Linked DNA regions of Homo sapiens: regions 2, 3, 4, 5, 6 and 7 are each reported to be linked to region 1. The links are microRNA targets in miRTarBase. Many come from high-throughput screens and were not tested one by one. Region 1 holds a microRNA gene; each other region holds the end of a gene's coding sequence.
The links. Region 1 holds the annotated microRNA hsa-miR-100-3p (CAAGCUUGUAUCUAUAGGUAUG, at 2,671-2,692, opposite strand). A microRNA usually pairs through its seed, bases 2 to 8, with sites in the 3' UTR of a target mRNA and lowers its output. Matches are read on the target gene's strand: a 7mer-m8 pairs with bases 2 to 8, a 7mer-A1 pairs with bases 2 to 7 and ends in A, and an 8mer does both.

Region 2: the mRNA of ZFP3 is a reported target of hsa-miR-100-3p. Seed matches in the 3' UTR shown: 7mer-m8 at 1,263-1,269.
Region 3: the mRNA of POU2F1 is a reported target of hsa-miR-100-3p. The part of its 3' UTR that is shown has no 7-base or 8-base seed match.
Region 4: miRTarBase lists E2F3 as a target of hsa-miR-100-3p. Seed matches in the 3' UTR shown: 7mer-m8 at 2,722-2,728 and 7mer-A1 at 3,510-3,516.
Region 5: the mRNA of CNIH4 is a reported target of hsa-miR-100-3p. Seed matches in the 3' UTR shown: 7mer-m8 at 2,101-2,107.
Region 6: the mRNA of SOX3 is a reported target of hsa-miR-100-3p. Seed matches in the 3' UTR shown: 7mer-m8 at 2,926-2,932.
Region 7: miRTarBase lists LRIG3 as a target of hsa-miR-100-3p. Seed matches in the 3' UTR shown: 7mer-A1 at 636-642.

What each region holds. Positions count from the first base shown.
Region 1 is chr11:122,149,570-122,153,955 of GRCh38, forward strand. It overlaps MIR100 (microRNA 100), which reads right to left and starts at 2,739; the gene lies at 2,660-2,739. All of the region lies in intron 4 of MIR100HG (mir-100-let-7a-2-mir-125b-1 cluster host gene), which reads right to left. It overlaps MIR10526 (microRNA 10526), which reads right to left and starts at 2,587; the gene lies at 2,534-2,587.
Region 2 is chr17:5,092,417-5,096,802 of GRCh38, reverse strand. It overlaps ZFP3 (ZFP3 zinc finger protein), which reads right to left. Exons shown (of 2, transcript NM_153018.3): 2 at 429-4,386. The coding sequence ends at 3,790. Among named protein-coding and RNA genes, the nearest start is that of ZFP3, 16 kb to the right of the region's middle.
Region 3 is chr1:167,414,651-167,419,036 of GRCh38, forward strand. POU2F1 (POU class 2 homeobox 1) reads left to right here. Exons shown (of 16, transcript NM_002697.4): 16 at 850-4,386. The coding sequence ends at 1,160. Among named protein-coding and RNA genes, the nearest start is that of CD247, 100 kb to the right of the region's middle.
Region 4 is chr6:20,489,787-20,494,172 of GRCh38, forward strand. It overlaps E2F3 (E2F transcription factor 3), which reads left to right. Exons shown (of 7, transcript NM_001949.5): 7 at 382-3,928. The coding sequence ends at 644. Among named protein-coding and RNA genes, the nearest start is that of CDKAL1, 42 kb to the right of the region's middle.
Region 5 is chr1:224,375,126-224,379,511 of GRCh38, reverse strand. CNIH4 (cornichon family member 4) reads right to left here. Exons shown (of 5, transcript NM_014184.4): 5 at 60-3,717. The coding sequence ends at 3,690. Among named protein-coding and RNA genes, the nearest start is that of CNIH4, 20 kb to the right of the region's middle. RefSeq lists enhancers at 1,456-1,545, 1,916-1,965.
Region 6 is chrX:140,500,103-140,504,488 of GRCh38, forward strand. It overlaps SOX3 (SRY-box transcription factor 3), which reads right to left. Exons shown (of 1, transcript NM_005634.3): 1 at 2,883-4,386. The coding sequence ends at 3,618. Among named protein-coding and RNA genes, the nearest start is that of SOX3, 2.8 kb to the right of the region's middle.
Region 7 is chr12:58,868,801-58,873,186 of GRCh38, reverse strand. It overlaps LRIG3 (leucine rich repeats and immunoglobulin like domains 3), which reads left to right. Exons shown (of 19, transcript NM_153377.5): 19 at 371-1,032. The coding sequence ends at 615. Among named protein-coding and RNA genes, the nearest start is that of LRIG3, 50 kb to the left of the region's middle.

The DNA of each region.
Region 1 (4,386 bases):
TGAATGAGAGAATGAAGAAATCATAATTTTTCTAGCCTTACGGCTATGCCCAATGTAAAAAGTGACTTTTTTTCCAATTCATACTTTATTAACTACCATGTTAGGTTCTAATAAATCTTTGAATATCTTTGAAGAGTCATTCACATCGACTTCTCTGTACAAATTCAGTGCTATTACAGGCAGTAGAGGCTTTAAAAATCTTAATTAGAGAGCCTAGGTGGCATTTGATGGGATTAAATACCATAGTCAACAGATAAGGATCCACAGGACCTAACAAATATTGAGGAATGATTCGTAAGCACATTGGAAAACTAAGAAATCATATTAGTTTAAAATTCAAAATTAATTCTATCATACACATACCATTTTTCCCATGTAAAGAAATACATCTATTAATTTTGAAATATAAATAAGAAAACTTCTCAAGCTAAATCTCAGCTTCTCCCTCCTCAAACTCTGATGTTGCAGGGTGAGTTGCTCAGGGTGAGTTGCTTTATCAAATGCATTTCTCGGAATAAGTTTCTTTTCCTGTTTTAAAAAAACAAATCTAAACCATGTCCTGGTATTACATCTTAAATATATTTTGATAGTGATGATTTGAGAAATTTAATAAAACTAGTTTGCTTTATACCCATTCCATTTCCTCCATGCAATAATAGCTGTTGAAATATTTCTTCCAAGCCTTTCTGGGGAAATTCTGAAATTATTTTACTTTCTGCATGATTCCTGTAGGATATTTGGTACACTCTGAGGGAGCCTCAAAGGAATAATTAATATCTACAGAACCATTCATTCATGAACATGGAAGGAGGGAAAAATACTGAATTTCATCATGTAAAATATTTAATATCCTGTTTCTTGTGGCCAATGTCCAGGGGCTTTGGGCTTCCCATTAGAATATTTTCTAACCAGATGAATCAAAGTTTGAAGCCGTTTAGAAACTTTGAAAGGGCCAACTGCTCTATATAATCTTTTTTTCTTGGGATAATGTGTTTTTAAAAACCTCCTTAAAAGAAGTAATCTGGCAGTCACCCACTGGCCATTTTGCAGTCCCAGTATTGTTCCTGTACGGGGAATACTGGGAGCTCATGGTCCCCATGGATCCATGAACTCCACCGCTAATCCCATGGTAGTACACTTAACAGCAGGTTAAAGGATGATGAGTAGAGATGTGATTTTGCCGTTATCAAACAAGTATTTATCTAGTGGAGGTACTGATTTAACTTGCTAGCAGTTTATTCATTCCAAGTTAACCACTTCAAAGAGGCATATAAAACTAACCAAGCAAATTGTTTGCTTTTTGTGTAGATAAAGGCCTTAGGCAAACAATTTATACAACACACACCAATGAGGACAGTCTTTCACTTTGGGTTGTAATATGCCATCATTCTATAATAAAGCAATGCTTTCTTGGCAAGCAGGGGGTTGAGCACCATAGACAACCCTCCTCAGTGCTATGCAAAGGAAATGCATGGAAACAATGTCGTCTTGGTCTAGCAATTACAGAATTCCAAATTCTACCCTTTATACATATGTCATCTGTATCTAGGCTGTCCTAATTCGGAAATGCAAAATCTCATTTCTATATACTGGATAAAAGAAAGAGTTTTAGTTATTCCTGAGTAGGTCTTAAGAGGAGACAGAATTTATCCACTTGAATTTCAAACTTTTCTCTAATGTTAACCCACCAACTACTTCATGTTGACTTTTTTTGTTAGAAGAGGACACACACACACACACACACACACACACACACACACACACACATCTTAAGGGAACTTCTGGCACTATGTTTTACCAAAAGGGCATGCAAAAGTTTTAGAGTCATCCAAATCTGATCAACTTTTCACCCTGGGTTCTAGTTCTGTTTACAGACTCCTCAGCTCACATTGTTGGAATGAAACAAATATAGCCAGTTTTGCTTTGATCTGTGGTCAGTTTAGCTTTTCAATCCTGGCACAATGGTGACATTTAAGAGGCAAGAGGATAAAATTATTTTCATTCCAGCGTTTTAAACAGGATAAAGACTTATAAAACAGCTCTGGCCAAATATGAATTTGGACCTAAACAGGCGATCTCTTTTTTATAAGAAGTCCTTCTTACACTGCTGGATATAAATAGAAGTATAAATAGTTAGGCAGTTAAACACATCCATTCTGATTTATCAGTCCTTATCTTCAGAAGCAAAATTATTGGGGAAATTGGGGGAGGAAGAATTGCAACAAAGGAAAACCCAAAAACCCAAATCACGGTGAAATTGGTCCTGTAAACACATCTGCCACTTTCCAGAAAATATCATAATAACTTTGAAAACAATTAGGCTTACAGAAAACAAAACAAACCCTTGTTTATCTCTTTACTCATCACTCAACAGTAAGTTGTTCCAATCACTCAAATTCTTGCTGCCTCACCTGTAAGCTCAGCCTTCTAATTTGACAGCAGAGACCAGTTACAAGAGATATGGGAATTGAGGGCCAGCCTATTAATTCATCATTGAAGAACCTCATTCATTTCAGGACAAAAGGTCTCCTTCCTCCACCTCAGCCCCCTTTTCCATTTTTATCACTCTTAAAGGAAACTAAGGGGAAGAGAAGGAGAATGAAATAACTCGAAGGGATATTGAATGGCATATAAGCAAAGCCCCAGGTCCGTGAGATTGCCTAACAGACACATACCTATAGATACAAGCTTGTGCGGACTAATACCACAAGTTCGGATCTACGGGTTTGTGGCAACAGGCCTCAATATCTTCTCTCTTTTGGGGCTGTGACATGTCTGAAAATAAAATATTACAACCATTAATCCAATAAAAGAGTCTACCATTCAATTGTTTTATGCCATAAATGGAAAGGACTTCGTCCCACTCTCACAAAAGCAAAAGTTAAGCAATATCTTCTATGTTCTCCCCAACGTGCTTCCCTTGGTTTCCACTTTTTCCACAAATCCAGTGGACTTTAGGTAAACCTCATCATTTTACTGTTTATATATGGAAGACTCATTTATTCACTGCTGAACACATAATCTGGGCAAAGTGATACCAAAATGGCAAACCAGCAGAATAAAGAAAATTCTTTAAATTGTAGGCAGAGAGAAAGAACACATGAGAGCCCAAATGCAAGTCCATTCCTTTAAATACCTGTCATTACATTAAAAATGATGGTGAAATTTTCATTTTCCTATTTGCATTCTGGAAAACAACTAGAATAAACTTAGCAAGTACTACCAACGGATTTATAGGTATATTTTTTTTTTTTTTGAAAACCACTCTAGAGTAGATTTTCAGGTATATTAAGATCCATCTTCGGGAAAAGTTTGCATTTTTGTTCCCACCCCCATCCCATCCCCACACTTATTATTGATTCAAACACCAACAATGAGCAAGTTTGGGTGTACTCTGTAAAATTTGAACCATAGAAGAAATTACATAGTTGTTCCTCCTTCCCCCCGCACCCCCCGCCCCCCGCAATACTGTTTGAAAAAACAGGGATGAATCTGTTTCAGAGACCTTCTTATAAAATGATTGCATTTGTCAACATAACATTTTTTTTCTGCAAAGCCAATGTTCTACATATAAGAAGGGAACATCCAAGACAATGGACTTTCATTAACGACGCCTTTTGTGAATTGTATTGAAGACAGGCATAATCATAAGCACTTCAGGGACATATATTATACAGCTAAATAACTCCCTGTCCTAGATGCTGGGAAACACACATGACTCCATCCCTTTACAGGACCTAAAAAGAGACCTTTTTAACTTTTGTTAGCTATAATTATGGATCCTGGCTCTCAAAATAATTATCTCATTTGCCTCAAAAAATGGACATTCACTCCTTTCTCAAGAATCTGGGGCCAGGCACTGGTGGCTCATGTGTGTAATCCCAGCACTTTGGGAGCCCAAGGCTGGCAGATCACTTGAGGTCAGGAGTTCAAGACCAGCCTGGCCAACAGGGTGAAACCCTGTCTCTACTAAAAATACAAAAAAATTAGCTGGGCATGGTGGCGTGCGCCTGTAATCCCAGCTACTCTGGAGGCTGAGGCATGAGAGTTGCTTGAGCCTGGGAGGCAGAGGTTGCAATGAGCCGAGATTGTGCCACTGCACTCCAGCCTAGGCAACAGAGTGAGATTTTGTCTCAAAAAAAAAAAAAAAAAAAAAAAAAAAGAATCTGGGAGATGAACTGAAGCCCTACCAAGGGGAACAAAAAAAGACAGAGCTGAATTGAGGAATTATTCAGAGAAAAGAGCAGGCCCTCGTGTATGCAACCTAAAAAGTTAAATAAAGAGAACAGGAAACCAACAGTACGATGAACAGAAACTGAGACATAACCATTCATAGATACTTTGTTGTTTCCCCATCTCATCACAAGTGAGCTGTGGTACAATTGC
Region 2 (4,386 bases), not on the chromosome of region 1:
TTCATGACTTAACAGCATTAAGAACCTGGCATCCGCCAGGAGTCAGAACACTTGTAAAAATTTAATGGTAAACAATCAGCAGCACCCGCCGCCACCCTGAAATTTCAGTAATAAGGTGATTTTTTGTTAAAGGCCATACAAATGGTCCGGAATATTTTAAGTTGCTAATCATGAAGAAAAACGTGTATACCAACACACGCACAATAGATAACACTTGTCCTGTTATTTAAGATGAAGGATCTCACCAAGCAAAGCAGATCAAGGACACAGAATGTACACTGTATGCAAAACCAGAAGCTAACAAGCATGTGGGGGTATTTAGGTAAGGTGAAACTTACAAGGTGGGGATGAAACTGGTAAACAAAGTCCTTATTAAATCCATAGTGAAACATAATGCAATTTGGAATAAACATGACAAAGGCATTGTATCAATAAAATAGTAAAGAAATATTTTATTTACCTAAGGTGTTAGTATACCATTAAAATTAGGGAAGGAAGAAAATTTTGTACATGGGCATAGCTTCAAAAATTCTGAAGGGTATTTCTGGGTATTTAGATAGGACTTTTAAGATTGAGGCCTGTGCGGTTTTTTAATGGGTCTAAAATTAAGACAATTCATGTCCTTTCCTTGATAGTATTTGCACAAATCATCATTACCAGTCACGACTGTGGTCAGATGCTGACTCCCAAGTAAGTCGAAGAGGGAGGCAAACAGAAGGAAAAGAGAAATCTTCCTGAGATATCTGGGTAAGACATGAAGAGGACAGAGAATTGAGGTTAAGGATTTGCGTATATGTACCTAATAAGATACAAGTGATTTCATTCACCAGAAATCTGGGGCGGGGCGGGGAATATGTATCTATATATGGTAGACTTTTCTGGGAATGAGACGTGAGACCTCCCCCTTAAGAACATGGTCAGGTACAACAGGTCACTAAATTGCCTCCTAATGTTCAAATGAATGAATGGTGAACTAGAGGAAGTTTTGCTGAGCAGGAATGGGTTTAAGAGGGTAATTGAGCTAGGGCCAGGGGAGGCGAGGTGATGGATTGGATATCTAGTAGGCAAAAAGAAGTTGAGGTGACTGAGCCTTGAGAGGGGAGGACAAGAGGAAAACCTTCATTGGTTTGGCCAGTAAGGTACTTCTGAGAACAAAATGTCTAATAGGATGCACAATGTGAACTCTTCTCCTTTGCTTACACACTATCTTCAGTGAAGTCCATATTGCTCAGGGGTGTTTGTGTGCATAGATTGTTTAGGAGAAGCTTGAAGGGGTGCCAAATTCTCTGTCAGGGCTGACAAGAGGTAAATGTGGAAATAAAATATGCAAACACGGGAATCAGGCATGGAAGGGATAGGTGAGATCCAGGTTTCATGTGAGAAAGATACGGTCTGGGCACAATTCAATTTGTGCTCCAGCAATGAAAAAGGAATAAGACGGCGCACTTCACTTGTAATCAACCTAAGGGAAGAAGTAAATCAAACAACTTCCCTTACTAAGAGTGTGACTGCTAGAGGCAGAGGTATCTGGAAGGATGTGGAAACTCTGCAATCATCTATTTGTACAACCCTTTTCTCAAGCCAAGGATATAAACCTGGGAAGACACCTATATTGGAGTACAGAATAAACCCATTTGGTGAATTTTTTTTGGCTGTGATCAGTTCTGTTACCAAGGACATGATTTAAATTTGTTATATTCAAATCTACATAGAAATCAGTAATAGAAACTGTGCAAAGGGTTTCAGATAAGGCAGTAATGAATCTGCCTACCTGCGGCATAGCACAGTGGTTAAGAGCATCAACCAGGTTTGGAGTCTTGGCTGTCGCTCTTACTAGCTGTGGAATCATGGGTCAATTACTTAACACTGCCCCTTCTTATCTTTTAAATTGGGGTAAGAATACCCACATCATTGATGGTTGCACCACTATGTAAATTAAAAATCATTCAACTGAACACTTAAAACAGGTGAATTTTATAGTACGTAAATTATACCTTCATAAAGCTTTAAAAAAATGAGTACCCACATCATAGAAATGATGTGAAAATTAAAATGTAAACTGGCACTCTGCCTGTCAGGTAGTAAACACTCAATAAATATTAGTGACTAATATTAGTGTAACAAAGATGAGGTTAAAGAATAATAAAGATATATAAAGTTAAATTTTTAAAGAATTAAGGAATTATCGGGCTGGTTGAAACTTTTGAGATCACTTAGTTCAACTCTTTCATTTTACAGAGGAGAAAATTGGAGACCAGCAGGTGAAGTGCCTTGTTCAAGGTCTAGCGCTAAGACCAGCCCCCAGGCCTGTTGGGCCCCCATTAGTGCAATTCCCACTGTCACCCACGGCCTCAGAAACATGGACACATGGAAAATGTAGGCTGTTTCCTTGGAGAAGAAATAAATACAGAACACAAAAAACATGCAGACATAGCGAAGAAAGAATTTCAAGGCCGGGCATGGTAGCTCACACCTGTAATCTCAATACTTTGGGAAGTTGAGGCAAAAAGATTGCTGGAGCCCAGGCATTCAAGACCAGCCTGGGCAACATAGCAAGACTTTATCTCTATTTTTTTAAAGTTATTCAAGAAAAAAGAATTTCAAGGCCAAGGGGCAAAACCAAGAAGAGGCTACGACATCCTGACTTAGCCAGGGCCTCCAGTGCGGTCCAGGTCATGAGAACTTAAGTGCTTTGGCAAGGCCAGACCCTGGTTTGTCATCAGGTGAACTGACTCATCACTGTAGCCAGGTGCCCGGAGGAGGTGAAGCCACAGTCCTGTCTGCTACTTACTGTCACAATATCTGTCAGCAGTGGCAGGAGATGGGGCTAAAAATATATGCAGCAGAATTCTTAGGAGCAGTCAGTCTGAGCACCCCTGAAGTGTGGACAGCTCCTGAAGAGCTGCTTCTGCCCATGCCGAGCAGTGTGACCTCAATTGTTTATCCCCTGGTGTTGCCTAATCGGCCCCTCTGGATTCTAAGGCCTTCACTTATAATCCCGTTGTAAATTGCCTGTCAGTTCCTCCATCATGGCAGCCTCTTCAGATGAATAAGGAAGCCTGACAGATGTGAAATGAGCCTGCTTCTTCATTAATGCTGCCATCTTCTAAAGTAACTTCATAGCAGGGCTGGACGACTTTGAAGCTAATAACAGCTTACTAAATTATTCCAATGCTAAACAGTGGACAGGAGAATGAGGTGTGTCTTCTAAATTATGACTTTCTAATATTTCAGGGGGTAACAGTCAATGAGTCAACTCTCATTCTTAGGAGGTGGTGGAATCCTGTTCCCACAATTTTGCTGAAGAGTAATTTAGGAAAGATGGCTGGTACAGACCCTTAATGTTTGTTATGTGATCCACTGGGGGAGGAGAAGGGGAAGGAAGGACAGAGGGGAAATTAAGGCCTGAAAGAGCTTTTATGATTTAACTTAGCACACTGAAACCTCTCAATGAATAATTCATAAAAGTGCCTCATTAGTGCCTGCAGTCCTAGCTATTTGGAAGGCTGAGGCAGGAGGACTGTTTGAGCCCAGGAGTTCAAGGAAGCAGTGAGTTACGACTGTGCCACTGCATCCCATCCTGGGCAACAGAGCAAGACCCCAATGCTTAAAAAAAAAAAAAAAAAAGTGCCTCATCTTCTTCAACCAACTATTTAAAATCAGTGGGAGGACAGAGGAGGTTCTGTCCATTCATTGGATTTGAATACTTGGGGTGCATATTTGCATATTATGAACAAATGAATAAGTTGGACTTTAGCTTTTCCACTAAAAGCTTTCCTATTTTGCAGATTACTCCATACAGTGAACACTTTGATGTCGGAGGAGGTGAGAGCTCCGACTAAAAGTCTTCTGACATTCTTGGCACTCATAAGGCTTCTCTCCAGTGTGAATTCTCTGATGTATGATAAGTTGGGAATGCTGGCTAAATGTTTTCTCACACTCGCTACATTCATAAGGTTTCTCTCCAATATGAATTTTCTGGTGGAGAAGCAGCTCAGAATTATCCCAAAAGGTTCTTGCACACTCATTACATTGATGGGGTTTCTCTCCAGTATGAATTCTCTGGTGGACAATAAGGTGAGAGGTCCGCCTGAAAGCCTTTCCACACTCAAAGCATTCATAGGGTTTCTCTCCAGTGTGAATTCTCTCATGTCTAAGAAGTTCTGAGTTCCCCCTGAAGGCCTTCCCACATTCCTTACATACATAGGGCTTCTCACCAGTATGAATTCTAATATGTCTAATAATCTCTGAGTTCTGGCCAAAAGTTTTCCCACATTCATTACATTCATAGGGTTTGTCCCCTGTATGAATTCTCTGATGCCGGATAAGCTCAGAACTCTGCCCGAAGCCCTTCCCACATTCATTACACAGATATGGTTTTTCTCC
Region 3 (4,386 bases), not on the chromosome of region 1:
AATTTCTCACCCATTAAAGCACATCCTAGACTTAGATCACCCACCTACATCATTATGTCTAATTTCCTGCTACAATAGATTCATCATTCTCCTTTGCACAAGTCATAGAAATCAAGTATTTAGCCTCAGGAAGTGAGAAATTAATTATACCTTTTAACTTTATTTGGTGATACATAATTTATTTTAGAACTAAAGCCTTTTTGCAAGATGATTTTCATCTTGTATATCATAATATAAAGCAGTGGTCCCCAACCTTTTTGGCACCAGGGACTGGTTTTCTGGAAGACAGTTTTTCCATAGCCACATTGTGGTGGCGTGGTTTCTGGATGACACTGTTTCCACCTCAGATCGTGCTCTATGAGAATCTAATGCCGCCACTGATCTAACAGGAGGCAGGCCTCAGGCTGTAATGCCCACCACTCACCTCCTGTTGTTAATGCTTTAATCACTTCAGCTAGTTTGTCCTTTGAACAGAGGTAGTTTAAAATCAGCAGTCTTCATTAAAGACAAAATTATTGGATTTATCAAATATGTCTAGGTAAATGAAATAAACTGGTGATTTCAAGACACGAACATGACTCTAATTCATTAGACAGTTATTAGCTGTCTTCTACCCCTGCTTGTGCCCATTAAATTAGACATTTCAGTCTTTTAGGCTCTTCAAAATTAAAAATAAACTACAATTGGTATCAATATAGCACTGTGTTTGAGGAAAAAAATTCAGTGAAGGGCTATACTTTTTCCTGGTGGGTTGTAGGAAAATGATAGACTTTTGATGTGTTATTTGGCTTCTCCAGGATGATGTTAATGTTTTCATTCCTGCCTGTTTTGGGGGGTTTTTGTCTGTAGCTCTTGCTTCTGGTGGCTCTCTTCCAATAACATCACTTGATGCAACTGGGAACCTGGTATTTGCCAATGCGGGAGGAGCCCCCAACATCGTGACTGCCCCTCTGTTCCTGAACCCTCAGAACCTCTCTCTGCTCACCAGCAACCCTGTTAGCTTGGTCTCTGCCGCCGCAGCATCTGCAGGGAACTCTGCACCTGTAGCCAGCCTTCACGCCACCTCCACCTCTGCTGAGTCCATCCAGAACTCTCTCTTCACAGTGGCCTCTGCCAGCGGGGCTGCGTCCACCACCACCACCGCCTCCAAGGCACAGTGAGCTGGGCAGAGCTGGGCTGCCAGAAGCCTTTTTCACTCTGCAGTGTGATTGGACTGCCAGCCAGGTTAATAAACTGAAAAATGTGATTGGCTTCCTCTCGCCGTGTTGTGAGGGCAAAGGAGAGAAGGGAGAAAAAAAAAAAAAAACCACACACACCCATACACACATACCAGAAAAAGAAAGAAAGGATGGAGACGGAACATTTGCCTAATTTTGTAATAAAACACTGTCTTTTCAGGATTGCTTCATGGATTGGAGAACTTTCTAACCAAAAATTAAAAAAAAAAAAAAAAAAAGAAACAAAAAAATCAAAAACAAACAAAAATAAGTGAAAGGACTACTTATCATTTCCAGCAGTCATGATGACAAGTTAAGGTGGGTTACCAATTCCAATATAGGAAGGGGATTTCTTGTTTGTCTAAATTTCTTTTTTTCTTAAAAAAAAAAAATCATTTTTATGGGTCTGTTGTACAGGCCATTAAGTCATAACAAGGTGTTTATAATCGTATCAATTGTGTTGGGGGTTCCTTTCTTAACTGGTACAATTTAGGCAGGCCTGTATTACTGTATTATTATTGTTGTTGTTGTTATTGTTTTATATATATAGTTTGGACATGTTTATTATCTCTTGCTCCTGGATCCTATTTCAGTGAGCTCCCACACTGTGGGGAGGGAGGGTTTTGGGGTAAGGGGAGACTTCTGTTCTTAACTGTGGGGAATGTTCTTGCTGGTTTCCTTATCCTTGATGACTCTTACAGAGGTGCTAGAAAATTATTTTCTTTTGCCACTTATGCAAGAGGCTTGGTGCAGAAGCTGAAGGCAGTGTGTGCAAACACTCCCATTCCACACACGCCCCTTCCCCTCCCCACATCAGGTGGTGCCTTTGGAGCACTTTTGTGTAGGAAGGAATTCCTGCTGAACTGTAGCTCTCACTCACCCCCAAATCATTGAATGACCCTGAGGCCCAGTTCCTGTGGTGCAACAGTGCTGCTTTCTGCTACTTTCAATGGGAACAGCTGTACATGTTGCAGGGCAGGATTTGGTTCCCAAGAGCAAAGACTACTGCAGACACCTGACTTGGTGGTTCTCCTGATTTCTTATCTCCTGAAAAATGCTCCTGCTGTTGGTGTGTTTGTTTGTTTGTTCCATTTTGTGGAAGTTTTTCATCCAAACTTTAACTAACTTGGCAAAGAAAAAAAACTGACTTACTGAAATTGGGAAACTTTTCCCTTCTTTTATTTTCTAAAGGAATTCTACTAGACTATTTTCCATTGATAATATATACAAAAGAGGTGTGATGAGAAGGGTATAAGGTTACCACCTTTTCCTCTAGAGAGCCACAGACTTCCTTTCCACTGGATGGTTTATAAATTCCTCTAACCCTGAGATTCTTCTTGGTTCTCTGACTAAAGGAGGCACTTATTAGCCGGGCTGGGATCTGTAGAACCTTTGAAGAAGGACTTTGAGCAGGAACTTTGCACACACCTTAAGTGTCTCCTTGGTTTGTTCATGATGCTCCTGCTAGGTAGGTCTAAATGGCAATACACATCTCTTTATTCAATGTAGAAAGTAATTAGCTCTGTAATTATTTTCAGGGTGTTTGTAGACTATATAAATGAGCCCATTGAAAAGGAAGAGTTTGTGAAAGTGGATGAAGAGGAATAAGGGTAACTTGGAGATTAAATTCCTTTTTTTGTCAGTGTACTGTTGTTATGCCATCTGTACCAAAAAATTTTCCAAAAGACTGGATCACTGCAGTGCAGCTCATCTAAGTTCCCCTTCTTATTGGAGTTAAAGGTTCCCATTTGGTGGCTGTGGGTGCTTGCTTAAATCTCTGGTGGTCCCAAGACTGCACTTTTTCTCCCTTTCGAGCTGGGGATGTAGAGAGAACTTACAGGTGATTTTTATTCTGATTGCTTTTGTTTGTGTCCACAAGGGAGCTTGGATTCTGTGTACTTGTCTCTTTCCCATTGTCCAGTAAGGCAGTAAATACAGACACAATGTGTACTTTTGTGTGTGATTCAAGTGGGAGACAGTCTGTTAAAAGGTCAGAAACATTTTAGTCCCCTTTAAAATATTTCTTTTAGTTTATTTCTATCGTGTTTTATTTCACAGATATTTAATTACCACCCCTAAATTTCCTCCTCTTACCCTTCACCTTCCCTAAAATCCTTCCAAAATCAGTGAACTGCAAGCAGGGAAACTAACAAATGTCCATTCACCCTTTTTGTGTGGTGTGTTTTTTTATGTTTTGTTTTGTTTTTTAACTAAGCTTGAACCAAAGTCAATTTTTAGCAAGCTGCTGTACTAATGGACTAGTTGATAACGTGCAGTTCAGACACATCGAGGAGATAGATGCTACTGACAATTTCTTTTTCATTTGTCTTTATTAATTTTATATGAAAGTTGCTGCTTGTTTTTAATCTTTTATGTTGGTAAATTGTGATATCCTCTGGGCAGACATTAACTTGATGTTTAACTAGTTTATTAGGTTGGTGTGTAAATAGAATGACAATGTCAATTACTAATTTCTCTCCTCTCCATTCACTTTTTCTCTGTTGTAGTTAAATTTAATCTTCTATCCTGACTTGACATCTCTACCTTTAGTCTGTGGAAATGATTTTAGGGCTATCAGTAATGCTGTAGCTGCCCATAATAATGAGTCCCTCCCTTGGGAGTGGTGAAACTTAGAAGGAAGGATTCAGGGAGGGAAATGCTGGTACCCAGTATACTGGATTAGAAGTTATAGCATTAATTTCTCAAAATTGCTACCAAAGGAAGTGTGGAGTCCCAAGGGACTCAAGCTCAGTGAGGTAAGACAAAGGGCAAGGAAAGGCTGTTTGGGTGGTTTTTTTTTCCCCACATATGGTTTAGAAAATGATCCCTTTCCCAAACAAAACTCACCAACAGACTTTAATATTAGAAAAGATACTAAGCTTTAAATGTCAATACAGTGGTCTTTTATTCCCTGCCCTGTCTATATTTTCTACTCAATTTGGGATAAGGGGATTTTATGTGAAGCACTTGATGAGGGTAGACCAGCATAAAAAATCTGTTTAAAAGAAGAAATAATCTTTAGGAAAAGATAAATCTTTAGATAAAAATAAATTTTTTTCTCTTTTTTTACTTATTTAAAAATAAGTTGTGAAATGAAAGGTACATTTACACATGTACACACGAAACACTAATATAGCTTTTTGGTGGTTGTTTAGTTTAAAATCAACTC
Region 4 (4,386 bases), not on the chromosome of region 1:
CAACATGGCAAAACCCTGTCTCTACAAAAAAAGATTAACCAGGCATGGTGGCTCACACCTGGAGTCCCAGCTACTTGGGAGGCTGAGGTGGGAGGGTCCCTTGAACCCAGAAGTTCAAGACTGCAGTGAGTCATGATCACACCACTGCACTCCAGCCAAGAGAATAAGACCCTGTCTCAAAAATTAAAAGGGGGACGGGGGTGGCAAGGAACTTTTTTGTACCTGTTAGCATAAAAGGTGATCTGCATCATAAAGTCGTCTCATTGTCATTATTTGCGGAAGGTACATGCTTTTTTCTAACAGCAACATATACATTCTTCCAGAAAAATTCATTTGATTTTTCTAACTTATTTTTTGTTTCCATCAATGTTTTCTTTTCAGACTTGGCTTCAACCAACTCAGGACATAGCGATTGCTCAGTTTCTATGGGAAACCTTTCTCCTCTGGCCTCCCCAGCCAACCTCTTACAGCAGACTGAGGACCAAATTCCTTCCAACCTAGAAGGACCGTTTGTGAACTTACTGCCTCCCCTGCTGCAAGAGGACTATCTCCTGAGCCTCGGGGAGGAGGAAGGCATCAGCGATCTCTTCGATGCTTACGATTTGGAAAAGCTCCCACTGGTGGAAGACTTCATGTGTAGTTGATTATGCTTCGTGTGAACTCTCCTTAAAAACCGATATTTTTTTATCATGGAACCAGAACATCTGTCATGCAGTGTTGTCCCTTCCTACCTTCTTCCTCCAAGAGAGTATCATGAAGTAAACTACAAACTTCAGAAGAAAGCTGACATTTTAATGAATTTTTTAAAAAATTAATAAACAAATTGTCTAAACGCACAGTTGCAGGCTCCCTTGGGAAAGCCCTGCTTTGCTCCAGGCTCCAAGATCTCCTGGCTAAGTCAGCAAGTGAGAAAATGTGCAATCAGGTGTCTCTCACCCCGAATTGTCCTTCCTCCTTCCTCCCCGGATTGGCTTGCTGTGCCTGACGGATGGGCTGTAGAATGGGGTCTGGCCACCTGGCCTGCTGGGAAACAGCAATCTTCCTTAATAGCATTTCAAGCCGTGCCTTCTCCGCAGAATGCATGTCTTTGAGGTCTGCTAATATGGAATGGAACTGCAGCAAATGCAAACTTGAAGTCATGCAAAAGTATGAAATGGATTTCTTCAGCTCTTCTTAGGAATATTTAAATTACTGTCATAATTCAGTTTAAGCTATGAACTGTGTGTCCCAGTAGGAGGTCAAGAAAACCTCCACAGCCTTCTGGATGAAGAACCTGTTTTCAAATATACTTGTTGCAGATACAGAAGACTAGTAGAGTTCTGCCACTCTAAGCTGTTGTGGATTTTCCTGTCTCCATGAACCACTCCCATTCCCCCGTCCCCAATGTGTTTGTGAGTTTCCAGTTGATTTGTAGCAAATGCCTACTTAGTTCTTTGTGGATTGTTCTAGACTTTTAATTTTTTTAGCTGCCATTTAAGCATTCCTGTGGCACCCATCACCATTTCAATTTAATTGTTTACTTTGAAGCGGTTTTTGCAAATTCATATTACTTAAGCAGAGGGAGAGAACCTCTACTGATCAGAGCATCTAAACCTGTGTGATCTAAGGTTTATCAGCCTCTGCAAGGAGCTTTGTCCCATCGTGCTTCCATTCCCAGGAGGGGGAGCTTGGAGCGAGTCAGTCCTGGGGCTTGCTGACATGGGTGGCCCATTGGAAAGGAGAACCAGGTCAGATGATGTAACAGCCCCAAGGAGCAGCAGGCATGGGTCCCTCCATCCTTGGGCTTCCCGGGCCCCTGTGACAGGGGAAAGGGCTCTCTTACACCGCACTCAGGGAGACCACTTCTCAGGATGGGGTCAGATGGAGAGACCTCTAGGGAGAAAGACATCCCCATTGTGTGAGTGGCATTTCCTTAAGCTGGCAGGAACAGGGAGCAGCCCTGTGTCGGGGGCTGGAATAGTTCTGGCCAGACCCCGTTCCCCTTCCTCTATGAAGGAATAAGTTGGACCAAGGGAAGTCGGGGACGTAAAAAATGAAGCAAAACAATGCCAGGGTGTCTCCCGCTTTACTCTTCAGGAATGGTGTCCCAAGTTGGAGGCTTTGTGTCAGCTGCAAATCCTACCAGTTATGTCCAAGAATGGCTTTCCCTCGGGCAGGTGGCAGCGGCCATCTCCCACTGGGAATATGGCGTAGTATCTCCGGTCCATTCCTTGGATGCTAAGGACTGCGGGAATGAGGGAGTCAGATAAAGAACAAACCTCGAAACGAACAGTTAAATTGAAATGCTATGTGCCTGACCCAATGGTAGGCACATAGTAGGCACTCAACTCATATGTTTAATTGAATTGAAAATATCCCTTAGGAAAAAAAAAAAACACACAAAAAACCACAAGAGCCCCAGCCAGTTTACTCCAGGTAGATTTCCACAATATGCAAAGTGGTGGTGGGGTCAAGACAGATGACACCAGCACTTTAAACTCTTTGTGTGGGTATGCGTGGGTGTATGTTTGGGAAGAAAAACAAAGGTGCAGACTATCTTCCTTTTTTTCTTCTTCAGCCTCCATCCCTGGCCTCCTCCCCTCACACACACTGGACTTGGTACAAAATGTCGGTGTGGTCCTAGATGAAGCATTGGGGTGGGGGAGGGAGAGGGAGCTTTGTGTTAAGTGCCTACTGGAAATGCACTGTGGGGTTTTTTCCTGTATGGGAAACCATTTATGCCAAGCTTTTCCCCATTTCCCATATTTATCTCATCTGGTTAGCTGCCTCTGCTTCCAGCTTTGTGTAATTCTCTTTGCCAGCTGCACAAAGCTGATTTTTTCCAAAGTCTAAAGACTGAGCTCACCTGGCTAGATTGTTGTGTGTTTTGTTGAATTTTTTCATAATGTAATGCCGTATTTATTGTTTTTAAAATGAAAGGAATACTAATAAGTCTTAAAAGTTCCTTCATGCATAAGATTTTTTTCCAGTTACTGGGTTTAACTGGTGTACATTAATTAGATGTCCATACTGTATTTTGTTTGCATTAAGTAATTTTCTTTTTGACTTAGTATCCGGCACACAAAGTGGGTTAGTACTACAGTATTTGCGTTACTTTAAGTACTAAGTATGCAGGTTTCCTGGTACCATTGAGTTGCTGCTATTAAAGCTCACACACGAAATGGCTAAAAGTTACAAGTGTGCAAATTATGACTGCGTGAGCCTTAGAAAATAAAATGTATAAAGGGCAACACATGAGCTGTCAAACAGTGTTAGGAGTGTGTTTATATGTACAGAGTTGTGCATAGCAATCGTTTTATTTAAGTTGATATGTAGTCTACTCACATTTTCATTATTTAGCAATTTTGTACAAAAATAGCAATTAATTTGTAAACACTGCCAGAATACTTTCTAGCTGCTTTGTAATTTTTTAAGAGTGTTATTTTGTTTTTGTTTTTCTGTTCTTTGTTGTGGCTCTTGTTTTCATTTTTGTTGTACGTGTAGATCTGTAAATAAAATTGCAGTATTTAAAGCTTAAGCTTTCAGGAAAAAGAAAATAAGAATTCAGTGTGTGCATGACAACTCGTGTGTATGAGAAGGAGGGATATGAAGGAAGATGGCTTGCAGAGTAAGTCGGGTGGCAATTGTCAGGGTGTGGGAATTTCTTTTCCTACGGGGTACGTGATTTTGTAAAAAGGAAGTATTTCTCCCAAAATTGGGAGTAGGCAAACTACTAATCAGTTTAGCTTTGTGTTGTATGCTAGTTTAAAAAAGAAAATATGTAATATAATGTAAAAAAAAACAAAAAAAAGCTTTTATGATGGATTTTGTAAATAGATTTGTTACAGGGTGACCTGTTCTCTAGCTGTGATCTTACCACTTCAAATGGGTGTAATTTGAATAAATTTTGTATGGTAAAGGATCAATAAAATGATTTTTTTTAAGAGTTCAGGCTTGTGGATGGGTTTTCTTTAATATTATCTTGTGCTCCTCTATTAATTGAATTTTTTTCATTTTCTTTTTCTTTTTTTTTTTTTTGTTTTGTTTTTTGAGGCAGAGTCAATCACTCTCACCCAGGCTGGAGTGCAGTGGCACAATCTTGGTTCACTGCAACCTCCACCTCCCGGGATCAAGTGATTCACCTGCCTCAGCCTCCTGAGTAGCTGGGACTACAGACACCCGCCACCACGACTGGCTAATTTTTGTATTTTGAGTAGAGACGGAGTTTCACCATGTTGGCCAGGCTGGTCTCGAACTCCTGACCTCAAGTGATCCGCCTGCCTCGGCCTCCCAAAGTGCTGGGATTACAGGCATGAGCCACCGCGCCCAGCCTATTAATTGAATTTTTTAAAACATTCTTAAACAAGTTAAGGAGAAAGGCTAAACAAAAGCTTAAAACATCGTTTG
Region 5 (4,386 bases), not on the chromosome of region 1:
GACTTAAAGGCCATCAGTTTGACTTCTTGCTGAAAAAGCAATAGAACACCACAATCAGGTTTACTTATTCACTCAACAATCATTTATTGTTTGTGTGCAAGGCACTGTGTTAGGTGCCAAGAGCAGAAGGAAGAAGATACAAATATGAATGGGCATATTCTGCCCTCCAGGAACATACAATCTAAGAGTGATTAATTGCATACAAATAACTGTAATACCAGATAGAATGTGGTAAGTGCCATGGGAGATACTACTATAGGAAGCTTTCTTAGCTCTTAACTTCAAAGACCAGGTCAGGTTTTGTCCTACTGTAGTCTGTGGCAGGCATGAAAAGGCAGCTGAGGGGACCTGCTAGGCTTTGATGAACTGAGCTGCATCTTGGATTTCGCTTCCTCTTCTTTCTCAGCCGAGGTTACGGTGATTAGCAAGGGCAGTTGCTACCACTGAAAGGATAGAAGGAAAAAGGCAAGGGAAAATGATACGTACTAAGATGCACATAGGAGCACTCGATAGTAGTCTATGGACCGGGCCCTGGGTACTGCCATTATAGAGGGAAGGGGAAGAGGAGTGGTAAGGGAGAGAGAACACTGGACTAAGCCTCAGCATTCAGATGTTCCCAGTTACAACACCCTGAACGATCTCTAGGCCTCAGCATTCAGATGTTCCCAGTTACAACACCCTGAACGATCTCTAGGCCTCAGCATTCAGATGTTCCCAGTTACAACACCCTGAACGATCTCTAGGCCTCAGCATTCAGATGTTCCCAGTTACAACACCCTGAACGATCTCTAGGCCTCAGCATTCAGATGTTCCCAGTTACAACACCCTGAACGATCTCTAGGCCTCAGCATTCAGATGTTCCCAGTTACAACACCCTGAACGATCTCTAGGCCTCAGCATTCAGATGTTCCCAGTTACAACACCCTGAACGATCTCTAGGCCTCAGCATTCAGATGTTCCCAGTTACAACACCCTGAACGATCTCTAGGCCTCAGTTTATCTTTGGGATGAGGGAGTTAGACAAAATGATCTCTAAGGTCCTCTACAACTCTCCAATCAATGAAAAGGGGAGAACATTTATAGCATCTTAAACATGGCTTTTTAAAGTCAGTGCTTTTATCCCCCTTTCATGATTTGTAGAAGTGCCCCTAAAAAAATTGTTTTTGAGCTGGGCGTGGTGGCTCACACCAGTAATCCCAACATCTGGGAGGCCGAGGCAGGAGAATCGCTTGAGGCCAGTAATTTTGATACCAGCCTAGGCAACATAGCAAGACCTCTGTCTCTACAAAAAATTCGCTGGGCATGGTGGTGTGCACCTACTCCCAACTACTTGGGAAGCTGAGGCAGGAGGACTGCTTGAGTCCAGGAGTTCAAGGCTGCAGTGTACCACGATTGCGCCAGTGCACTCCAGCTTGGGCGACAGGGCAAGACTCTGTCTCTAATTAAAAAAAAAAAAAATTTAACTACAGTGATCCCCCACTTTCCTGGCTTTGATAGACAAGCAATACAAGAAGGAAGAGTTTTTGTTTTTAACCACAGCTAATGTTTCAGAAGTAAGGAGCTTTGACCTCTGTTATAAACATGGCACCTTTCTGATTTGCTTAGCCTCAGCAAGCCTGATGTACTGTAAACTGACAGCCCAAAGGCTCTCTCAACTGCATGAGTCACTGTTTTGGTTACTAAGAATATCTGAATGAGAAGGTGAAACATTTTGGTCAAAAGTCATCTACATGGCCAGGCGCAGTGGCTCACACCTATAATCCCAGCACTTTGGGAGACCAAGGCAGGCAGATCGTTTGAGGTCAGGAGTTTGAGACCAGCCTGGCCAACATGGTGAAACCCCATCTCTACTAAAAATACAAAAATTAGCCAGGAGTAGCTAGCCGTAATCCCAGCTACTTGGGAGGCTGAGGCAGGAGAATCGCTTGAACCCAGAAAGCAGAGGTTGCAGTGAGCTGAGATCACACCACTGCACTCCAGCCTGGGCAACACAGCAAGACCCCATCTCAAAAAAAAAAAAAAAAAGATCTCTACCGCCTTTAAGTAGCTTATCTCTCAGTTGCAAGGATTTAAGTTCTCCAACAGCTTCGTTGCTTTAAAAAGCTTGAGCAGAACATGAAGAGGCACAGGAAGTTAGGAGGAAAGGCAGAGTGAAGGGACTGTTTTCTAAGCAAAAGCTGCCTCAGAGGGAAAAGGTATGAAAAAGAGATGCAAGCAAAGTAATGTCTGTTACACAGCTTCTTGGCCCTGTGCCTGACAGAAATATAAGATTACCACAAGGAGCAATTTCTGTGACCCCAAAGAGGCCAGCAGAGCCAAGTTCACTTTGCCTACCATTTCACCGTTCCTTTTGTGTGTTGCCAGGGCACTACTTCCAGCCTTGAAACATGGTCTGTCTGCACAGGGAGTTTGGCTTAGTGGCTCCCTTGCTTCTGCCAAGGCTAGACCTGGTCAAGGACTAAAAGGACATGTAACATTTAATCTTTTGGGTACCACACACCCTGTTTAGCCACCCAATTCTATCTCAACTAGAGTGAATAATGCCTTTGGATTCTCCCACAGAACACAGTCATGTTTTGCCCAAATGCCAGTGCTTAAGATAGCAACATTAAACCACAAACTAGGACTGAGGATAAATTGCCAGGTTTATTTTACCCTGTAAGAGCTGGCAAACAGAGCTAAGGAGGTGAACTGCTCTCCCACCTGCAAGAGTTTACAATATAACTCCAAGGAACAGAGTTTGGTTGTATATTGCTATGTCCATGAAATGGCTTGCATTTGGTCTCCCAGTTCACAACGTGGTCAGTGCAGAGGGATAGAAGTGTTGATCTGGCACCACGTGGCGCACCAAAAGGCTCAATTTCACAGACAGCAAATAACTATTCCTGCTTCTAATCTGATTAGCATCTTCTACCCAAACCCATGAAAATACGTTATCAGGGAGATCAAATACAATTGGAATAACTGCAATACGAAAACCAGACTGGCAAGAGCCAGTGGGGATTTTCTGGGTTTGGGGGTGATTGTGGAGGTAGTAGCTTTTAAATGAAAGCTCTTGACAAAATATTTCCTTTCTATCAGCAGGAACTACATTGTACCTGGGGAAAATGGCTTATAAGGTTTCACAAATTGTGCAAAGAAATATATATATTTTGAGATGCCATTCTCTGTTGACATTCTTGTGAAAAGACTTTTAGCTGACAGTCTCATAAATCTTTAAACCATATTAAATGAAGTTGTCACAACACAAGCAAAAAGGGTAATTTTTCTTCTTTTGTCCAGATCAACAGTGTTGTTTTGTACTCTAACTTTTCAGTAGACCTGAAGGGCACCTTTGCTCGCTCATCTCTTCAGTTTGCCCTTTAAAGTGTGTTCTTTATTTCTTTGGCATGCAAAGCTGGGATGGCAGTCCTGTTCCTACATACAAATAACCACCTTCAACATACAGAGGATGAAAAACACCTTCAAGTGTTGGCGTTCAGGCTAAAGTTGAGAACTAGAAATCTACAGAAACTCAATTCATGTTTTTTAAATACTTTATATGGTAAAAATACAGCAAAAATAGTTTTTTGTTCCAAGAGGAAAATATATACTGCTATGGTCACGGTTCTAAGGATGATTTAAGAAGTCTCTGGCTCCTCAACTGTGCACTGTAGTGTAGGCTGACTTCAACCACGGCTTCTCCAGCTTCAGTCATTTATCAAAGCTAAGATCATACTGTGGAAAGAAGAAATGAATGTCACTAATGTTTTCTCAGGAATGTTCCTACAGAGCCTGGTTTGTCCAGACTTGCGTCCCTAAGGTTCACAAAGGAACAATCATTTGAGTAAAAGACAATCATTCATACCCAAAGGAAAGAATATATTAGGATCTTTCATGTCCAAACTTTTTCACTAAAAAAGAGTGACTGGGGGTGGGGAGTTGGGGGAAGTACAACTTAAAACCTATGTTAGGCTATAGTTAAAAAAATAAAAACAAAACAAAACAAAAACAACCTAGCTCAGTTAAAAAAAAACAAAACAAAACAAAAAACACCTATGTCCAGAAAAAAAAACCTTTAAATTCTCTAGCCAGATACATACTGTTCTATGCCTGGAACCTCTTCTCCCCATCCCACCACTCCATCAAAGCAGTAACTTCTTACTCAGGTTTTGTGATTGGCTCTAGGGCACCTCGTTGGGGAAGCTGGCCTCTCAGCCCAGGGCAGTTGCACAGCCTCCTTCCACAGCTCTTCTTCCTGCTGCTGTGGCTTACATGTTGTCTCTACCACTGGACTATGAGCAACTCTTGAGATGAAAGCAGGGCCCAAGCATTACCACTTTCATGTTCTACTAGCAACCGGGCCTGCAATTACCAAGTTCCAAGCTTTTACCGTAGGGGTTCTGT
Region 6 (4,386 bases), not on the chromosome of region 1:
AAACATTTTACCTAACCTTTCTCCATTTGTTGGACATTTGGTCTGTTTGGAACTTTTTTGCATAAGAAGGGCTGTGATGAGTATCTTTGTTATAAATCTTTGGCTGCATTTTGGATGCGCTTCTTCAGCCCCAACCCTCACCCACTCCTAGATTTCTAGAAGGGGGATTAATGAAGGAAGTTGTATAGTCAGAAGATAGGAAAGCAAAACTCTACCTAGGGTAATTCCCACCAAAAAGTAGCTCTGCACCTATCATAGAAGCTAAAAAATGGACTAGCCATTTTCCCTCGGTAAGGACTTGATGCTTCCCACATCACATCATTCACGAAGAGGTGGCTAGTAGGAGTCTCTGTGTCAGGAATTGCCTTTCTCTAGAGGCCCCGCTGGATTATGGCTTTGAGGGGCAGCTGGGGCTGTGATTTCACTGGTTTATCTCTTGGTTTTGTGGCCGGCAGAGGAGAGAGTACCCTCCCAGGCCTGGGAGTGTGGTTCCACTGCGCCGCGGTAGAACCAGCTACGCAACCTTGAGCACCGTCATTTCCCCTTTTGGGGCCAGTTTCCTCCTATGTAAAACAAGGAAGAGGAGGGAGGAGGAATTGGAGTTTGACCAGATTTCATTATTGTTGCTGTTTAAGCAGCAGAACCCTTATTACAAATTAAACCTTATCAGAACCCCAATCTATAAAATGGATTAAGGTTCGGTTGCCCTGATAGACGTGAGTGGGGAGGAGTGGGGGAGGGGCCCCAGTTTGAAAACTCTGGCCTAGAAGATGAAAGTTTCATTCTAGTTCAGTTCCGTTCTCTTCCCTATTGCTGAAGGAAAGAAAAAAAAATCATTTTTCATCTGTATTTAAATCCTCCTAATGTGCTGATTGATGAAATCTTTTCCCTTAAGGGCAATTTGGAAATCAGACAAAGTGAAGCACAAAGCCATGGATGTTTAGAGAGAGAGTGAGCGGTATGTGAGACACACTGAAAGGGTGACCCTGGCACTTCTAAGAAGGCAGCAGCACAATGGACTCTTCGAAAGAAGCAGTGTCAGAGTTTATTCCCCTGTTGGCACCGCCTCCCACAGTGGGGGCGAATTGCTTGTTTTTACCCTCCCTTTCCTGGAGTCATTTCAGACCAAATTTGAGTCCACAATTGCTAGCAATTGGAAACCCAGAGTAACCTACGGACAGGTATTTTATTGAAGGCCAAACACGGTAAAAATATGGTGGGGGGATAGATGGGACAAAAGAGTTTCCTCTCGCCCCTGGGTTTTTGGAGCACCCGGGTTGAGGGGCCAGGGGAGATGAGGCTCACTGACCAGGCAGCTTGCAGGTTTGCTCCAATCACAGCAGCAAGGATTGAAGCACCAACCAGCCGGGAGGGGGGCGAGGTCTGTGGCCCTGGGATTGGGAGAAGGGGGAGTGGTACCAAGGCTAAGACTGAACCCGAACCCGAGCCTGGACGCGCGGCAGGACCAGGAGGAGGACTGGGTGGAGGGCAAAGCGTATGGGTCTGTAAATCAACGCCGGCCCCCTCCCACCCCATGCTGCACAGTGGGGGATGGAATGCGGGGGGTGAGGGTTGGCAGTGGAAATGTCTTAGGGGGCTGGTGCTGCCTTCCCAGGGAGACCCGACCTTTCTTGAAGAGGCGGAGTGGGTTTAGTCTCCAGGATCCGCAGTGATGTGTAAAAAGCGGGCACGACCCCCGAAGCCTCAGAAAGCCCCCTCCCCACCCCCCCACCAGGCCCTCCCCGGCCCGCAGGTGAATGACTGGCCCACACAAAGGAAGCCGGCTGGAAATGTGGAATTCGGACCAATTTACGGGAGACTCTGTCGCCTAGGGTCCCAGCGGACCTCAAGCAAAGAAACCTGTGGTCAGTAGTGGATGAGGATAAAAACAGTGCACCAGGCCAAGCTTATTGGAAAGGCTGAGTTTAGTTATTCTGGGATAGCGAGGTAACAGGATTAAAGGGATTAAGGAAATCACCTCAAACAGCTGAGGAGGGGGTAAAAAAACACTGGTTCTATTTGTTTTCTTCCTAGGCCCCAAACAGATACACTGGGGCCGTGTGGCTGGGCGCGAAACTAAAGGCCCTTCGGGGGGCACAGTGGAATGGCCAAGGGTCAGGGACTGGAGGAAAGTGGGGAGGGGGATGGAGTGGGGAGGGGGATGGAGTAGAAAGCGGGCTCGAGACTCTGGATGAAAAGGAGCCTTCTCTGGAAAACAAATAGGTGGACTGAGTTGACATGTTAAAAACAAAACGCCTGGGAGGAGTTTCGGAGATCTTTGAAAATCTAAGGAGTACTTTTTAATACCAAATCTTCCAGCGCTGAATGTTGACTCCGGCGGTTCAGCTACCAGGGTTGAAACGTATTTGTTTCCTGCTGGGGATCCCTGTAACCATTTATTTTTAATAGGATCATCGAGATTTCCGAAGGGTTTTCGTTTTGTAAATATTTCAGCTAGGCTCAAATGTCTTCCCGCCCCAGTGCACAAAGGTAAAAGTGCCCCGTTTTTGGTCGGTTTCAGCGGCCGCGCCTTTCCAGCCCCGCCTCGCGTGGCTGCGGCAGCAGACACTTTCAGCAGACGCTCACTGCGATCAACAAGTGCGCGGCCGCGGGCTCTGCGCATTAGCTACTACTGTGTGCCCGCTCTCGGGAGACGCTCCTGGAAGACTCGGAACTCTGTTCCGAGTTTCAGTTGAGAATATTGGAAGCTGGTGTATGGTGGATCACCAGTAGTTAAAAGGAAACCATTTCAGATTATGCTTGCCTCCCCCCAGGTCCCACCCCGCCCCTAGGATGGGATCTCAGTTGTAAAACCGAGTGTTGGTTCCTCCCCAACCTGCAAAAAAGTTTCAGGGCCGCAAAATTATCAGGACTCCATCATGTTGGTTATAAAATTTATTGATCTCATTTAGGAATTAAGAGTAAAAGCTTGAAAACCCTGAAACAAAGTAGCCCCTCCCCACTACCCAAACGAAATCTGAACACATTAGCGCGAAGAAATATCAAACAGATCACGGCAGAAATCACCAACTCAACATGATTGGACAGAAGCTGTCCCGCGGCCAGGGGCGGCGAGGCGGGAGACACACGCACACCTGGCTATAAATTAACATTGGCTTTAGCTGCCGCGCTGCTTGGAGCGGTCAGCGCCCCAAAAAACCACGAGGAAAACAGACGCGACACGACTGGGGGCGTAGGCGTTGCAGTTCTCCAGCTGGCCTCACCCGATACTATGTTTCTCCCATTCACTCCTTGGCTAACTGCAAACTAACAAGACAACATTTTCAAATGTAACAGAATAACCCTGGAACTCAGGAGGAGGAGTGGGGGCTGTTTTTTCTTTGCAAATAACACAGCGATTCCCAGCCTACAAAGGTGAAAGGAGCAGCGGCGTGGGGCAAGAGAGCTCTCTAGAAGTCCCATTTTCGCTGCTCCTGACTTATTTTTGCTTTTGTACAAAACCCGACAGCTACAGCAAAACTTTCAGCCCTCCCCATCATCGGTACAAGGCAACAGTCCCAGGCAAGCAAAGCTAAACAAGGCGTCCCAACTTGGGGGTGCGGGGCGGGAGTGGGGGTGGGGGTGGGGAACAAGGGTGGACGAGCGCAGGCCGGTGCTCAGATGTGGGTCAGCGGCACCGTTCCGTTGACTGCAGTCCCGGCGCCCTGGTAGTGCTGGTGCACGCCGTGCAGGCGACCGCCGGGCAGCGGAGAGGCGGCGTCGGCCGCGTCCCCGCCGGGTGGCAGGTACATGCTGATCATGTCGCGCAGGTCGCCGAGGCACGCGCGCTGAGAGTGCGATGCGATGGCGGGCGGCGGCGAGCTGGGCTCAGACTTCACTACCGAGCCCATGGGGCCCAGGCTCATGGCGGCTGCGGCCGCAGCTGCGGCCGCGGCGGTGGCGGGCTGCTGCCCGTAGGCGGCGGCCGCGGCTGCTGTGGCTGAGGGCGCCATGCCCCCGTAGCCCGAGGCGGCGGCGGCCGCGGCAGCGACGTTCATGTAGCTCTGAGCGCCGGGCGGCATCATTGGGCTGTACTGCAGGCCGGCCATGTCGTAGCGGTGCATCGGCGGCAGCGCGGGCGGCGGCGGCGGGCTGCTCATGCTCGGGGGCTGCGCGTAGCCCAGCTGCTCCTGCACCAGCGAGTACGCGCCGTTGGCCCAGCCGTTCACGTGCGTGTACGTGTCCAGGCGCTGGCCCACGCCCACCGGACTGCTGGCGGCAGCGGCTGCGGCCGCGGCAGCGGCGGCGGCGGCCGCGGCACCGGGAGGCAGGAGGCCGCTGGGCAGGGAGTACTTATCTTTCTTGAGCAGCGTCTTGGTCTTGCGGCGCGGTCGGTACTTGTAGTCCGGATACTCCTTCATGTGCACGGCGCGAAGTCGCTTGGCC
Region 7 (4,386 bases), not on the chromosome of region 1:
AGTTAACTTGGATGTTACCATCCAACACACCCGTCACCAAAATTGGGCTCTCAGCTAGGATGTGGGGAAACTTATATTGGGGAACTTTATTGCATGACCATTAACATTACTACAGGTCATGAGAAATGATAAAGAATAGATGCATTTGTTCAGTGGATGTAAATATGAGGGAAGGCAAATGTCTTTTGCTCCATTCTAGAAGTGATCTGGCTGTAAGACAGATGTACATGTATGTGAGTGCCATAATGTGGACTTGTAGAAAACACTTACTCATATTCATGGGGTAAGATGTTCCTTCATTTGCAATGGGTTTTATTGATTCACATGCTAGCAAAGGGACCCATGTGCTCAAGGTGTTTCTTTCTTTCAGGTACCTTTGGAAAAGCTCTCAGGAGACCTCACCTAGATGCCTATTCAAGCTTTGGACAGCCATCAGATTGTCAGCCAAGAGCCTTTTATTTGAAAGCTCATTCTTCCCCAGACTTGGACTCTGGGTCAGAGGAAGATGGGAAAGAAAGGACAGATTTTCAGGAAGAAAATCACATTTGTACCTTTAAACAGACTTTAGAAAACTACAGGACTCCAAATTTTCAGTCTTATGACTTGGACACATAGACTGAATGAGACCAAAGGAAAAGCTTAACATACTACCTCAAGTGAACTTTTATTTAAAAGAGAGAGAATCTTATGTTTTTTAAATGGAGTTATGAATTTTAAAAGGATAAAAATGCTTTATTTATACAGATGAACCAAAATTACAAAAAGTTATGAAAATTTTTATACTGGGAATGATGCTCATATAAGAATACCTTTTTAAACTATTTTTTAACTTTGTTTTATGCAAAAAAGTATCTTACGTAAATTAATGATATAAATCATGATTATTTTATGTATTTTTATAATGCCAGATTTCTTTTTATGGAAAATGAGTTACTAAAGCATTTTAAATAATACCTGCCTTGTACCATTTTTTAAATAGAAGTTACTTCATTATATTTTGCACATTATATTTAATAAAATGTGTCAATTTGATGCCAAGCCCCATTTATACAATAACAATTTTTATTATTTTTAGCACAATTTAGGCTTAATTAGTTCACATTATCATGTCTCAAACGGATGGGAATTATATTTAGCCCATTAAAGTATGAACAAAAATGACCGTTTTTTCTACCTCCCAGGATTGTTGTAATACAGATTGAAATCAGATTGTGCATATGAAAGCACAATTGTAAACGAGAAGGAGCTACAGAGATTTAAGGTACATTATTTCTAAATCTACGAACAAAAAAAGATTTGTTGTTATAATCTGGTGTAATATAGTACAACTACCATAAATCACTGCTCAATTCATGTTTCTTTAATTATAATAATGGTTTACGTGGTCTAATGCCTTATGCTTATCCAAGTAGTTTCACTTTTGCCGTCCCTTTTCTTACAGCAAGCGAGTGGTTTATTGCATATGTCTATAGCTAAAATGGCTCTAGCAGAAGTGGACTTTCATGCACTGTTCCAGGTTGTAATGAGATGCTGCTAGAATTGTTTTCTGTTTTTATTGATTTTCTGCTGGAAGAGCAGTTTGTATATAAATGGTACTTCTAAGCTATTTTTGAACAATTACCAAAATATTTTCTTTGATCATCAAGGTTTGGTTAAAAACTAAGTATAAAATATCTTACTTAAGCACATAAAACTAAAACATTTGTTTTAAAACAGTATTCATTGAAAAATGTAATTACATGGCAGGCATATATACACAGAAAAATGAATATAACCATATTTTCTTTTTTTTTTTAATTATACTTTAAGTTTTAGGGTACATGTGTACAACGTGCAGGTTAGTTACATATGTATACATGTGCCATGTTGGTGTGCTGAACCCAGTAACTCATCATTTAACATTAGGTATATCTCCAAATGCTATCCCTCCCTGCTCCCCTCACCCCGCAACAGGCCCCAGTGTGTGATGTTCCCCTTCCTGTGTCCATGTGTTCTCATTGGAATATAACCATATTTTCAAAACTAGATGACACAATTCAAAGTAACTGAAAGGAAAAAAAATTCAGTTTAATAATTCAGATTATAAAACTTTTTTCTTCTGTAGTAAATTCTAGCTCATATGTGTAGTTTAAAGAAAAACCCTCTTGCTCAAGATAAATTGGCACAAAAGGAGTTAATATAGCACAATAAGCTTTAAAAGTCAACTAACCTCCAAGGTGTGAATTTATGCCATTGTCTTGTGTTTGAACTAAACTGAAAGCAGCTATTCAAAAAGCAGATTCTTCTTAGAGAATATGTTGGGGTTAAAGTCTTCCTGCTTTTAGTGAGTTTCGAGCTTTGTTGCTTGTGAGCCAGAAGCCTGGAACCCAGATTGCAGTCGATTTTCCTGCTTTAATTTAGACGCCAGAATCCAAGACAGGAAGTTGATCCTTCCTTGGACCACCAGTGACTAAGTACAGAGAAGTAATTTCGTATGCTTTGGCTTGATCATATTGCCAGATTTTCAAAATTTTATTGTTAATTTGTCTTCATTATTGCCAGATGGGGCCTTTTTCAGTTATTATGAACTTCTTTTAAAGGATTTAATTTTTCCGTACTTAAGCACAAAGGTTTAAATCATTAACGCCTGAAATTCAAAAATTAGATTCACTCTACATCAGTATGATTTTACCCTTTTACTGGGTGTATGTGCTGAAATTTGTGGATTAGATGTAATGTTAACTGTCTGGAGAAAGAGTAGGAACTTGATTTCTCTTTGACATTTGCAGGAAAAGAATATATATGATTTTGAGACTCCAAATTGAATTAACAAAATCAATCTAGTAGGTGGTAAGATAACCTAAAATAACATAGACTCAAGGTAAAAAGCCTAATGTAGATAAATGTCACATTGCTTGGAGGAATACTTAAAAATTCCAGTTTAATCATCCTATGCTTTTTGATAGGAGTTCATGTACAACATATTTTAATAGATGTTCACAAAATTTCTGTATTATTTATATCTTAATTCCACTATTGGCACTAATTGTAGGATATTGGGGAAAAATATTCCTTAGTTCTGGCAAAATTTTATGAAAGTTAAGTATCTGTGGAATATATATAATTTATTTTCACAGCCTTTCTACAGAAAGAAACCAAAAGTTACTGCTCAGAATAGAGCCACACTACTTTTTAAAGATTGACAGAACCAAGGAAAGTGGTTTGGTGTTTCTACACACTTGGGAGGCTTTATTTCTTTCAATTCAATGTGATAGGAAGTAATTTATAACCAATATTATGATAGATGTGCTACACTGGTATTCTTCAAGAGAATGGGAACCAAATGTCCTTGCAAAATGCCTGAGCTGTCCTTCCCACTCTTGCGATCTGAAATGATCAGATTTATGTAATAGGATAACTTTGAACTCATTGTTTAAGACAGCATTCTGTTAACACATTGGATAACACAGTACCCTGCCAAGAAAACAATTAGTCTTCAAAGAAAGGTACAGTTTCTTCATGAATTGAATAATTTTCATACTCCAGAAATATCTAGGTGCCAGAACTTAACCTTTTTTATGGGGCATTTCTTAAACTAATGTGTAATAGGAAAGTCCTGAAATAATTGTCTTGCTTGGTCTCAAACGTGAGCTAAAATGGCACAGAAGTATTTTCATTGGTATTTTATTTTAATAGAGAAGAGGTTTTGCCCACATATTTTCTGAATTATCTCAATATCTTGGGCCATTTGGTTTTTTGTTGTTGTTGAAAAATCTGTTACTGAATGGGATGTCTTTTGACAAAGACATTTTATTTTACTCAAGGTATATTATTAAGATAAAACATATGAAAGTCTATATTTTAGATTAAAATGTGCATAATTTATCAAGTCCATTCTTACTACTGTAAAAATTACAAGTTCATTTTTCATTCCTATTTTTTTTTTAGTGTCAGATCTGGATTCCATATCTGCCTGCATGATGGTTGATATCCATGAATACCTGGAAAGTTAAACCAACATTCACATGTGGCTTTTAATTAAAATTACATGTTTTAATTAAAGAAATTTTAAGAATACAGTTTAAAGAATATGACAAGGGAATTCACAACTGCTGTATAGTTCTTGCTTTTCTTCTATAATTTTTTTATATACCTTTGTTGGGTTTCATGTTGAACTTTGTCTTCTATTTTACAAGTATAACTTTTTTCTTAATTCTTTTTTTCTTCAGTACAACACCTAATACTTTTATGAGGTTATCGTAGTTGTTTTGTTGGTTATTTTGAGATTACTTCCTATGGTTTTATTTTGATCTAACTACAGCTCAGAGTTGAAATTTGGTAACAATACACTCAGTTTTCAAACACATTTCTTATGCTCTGGTGATGTGAAAAATGAATAAAATCTTA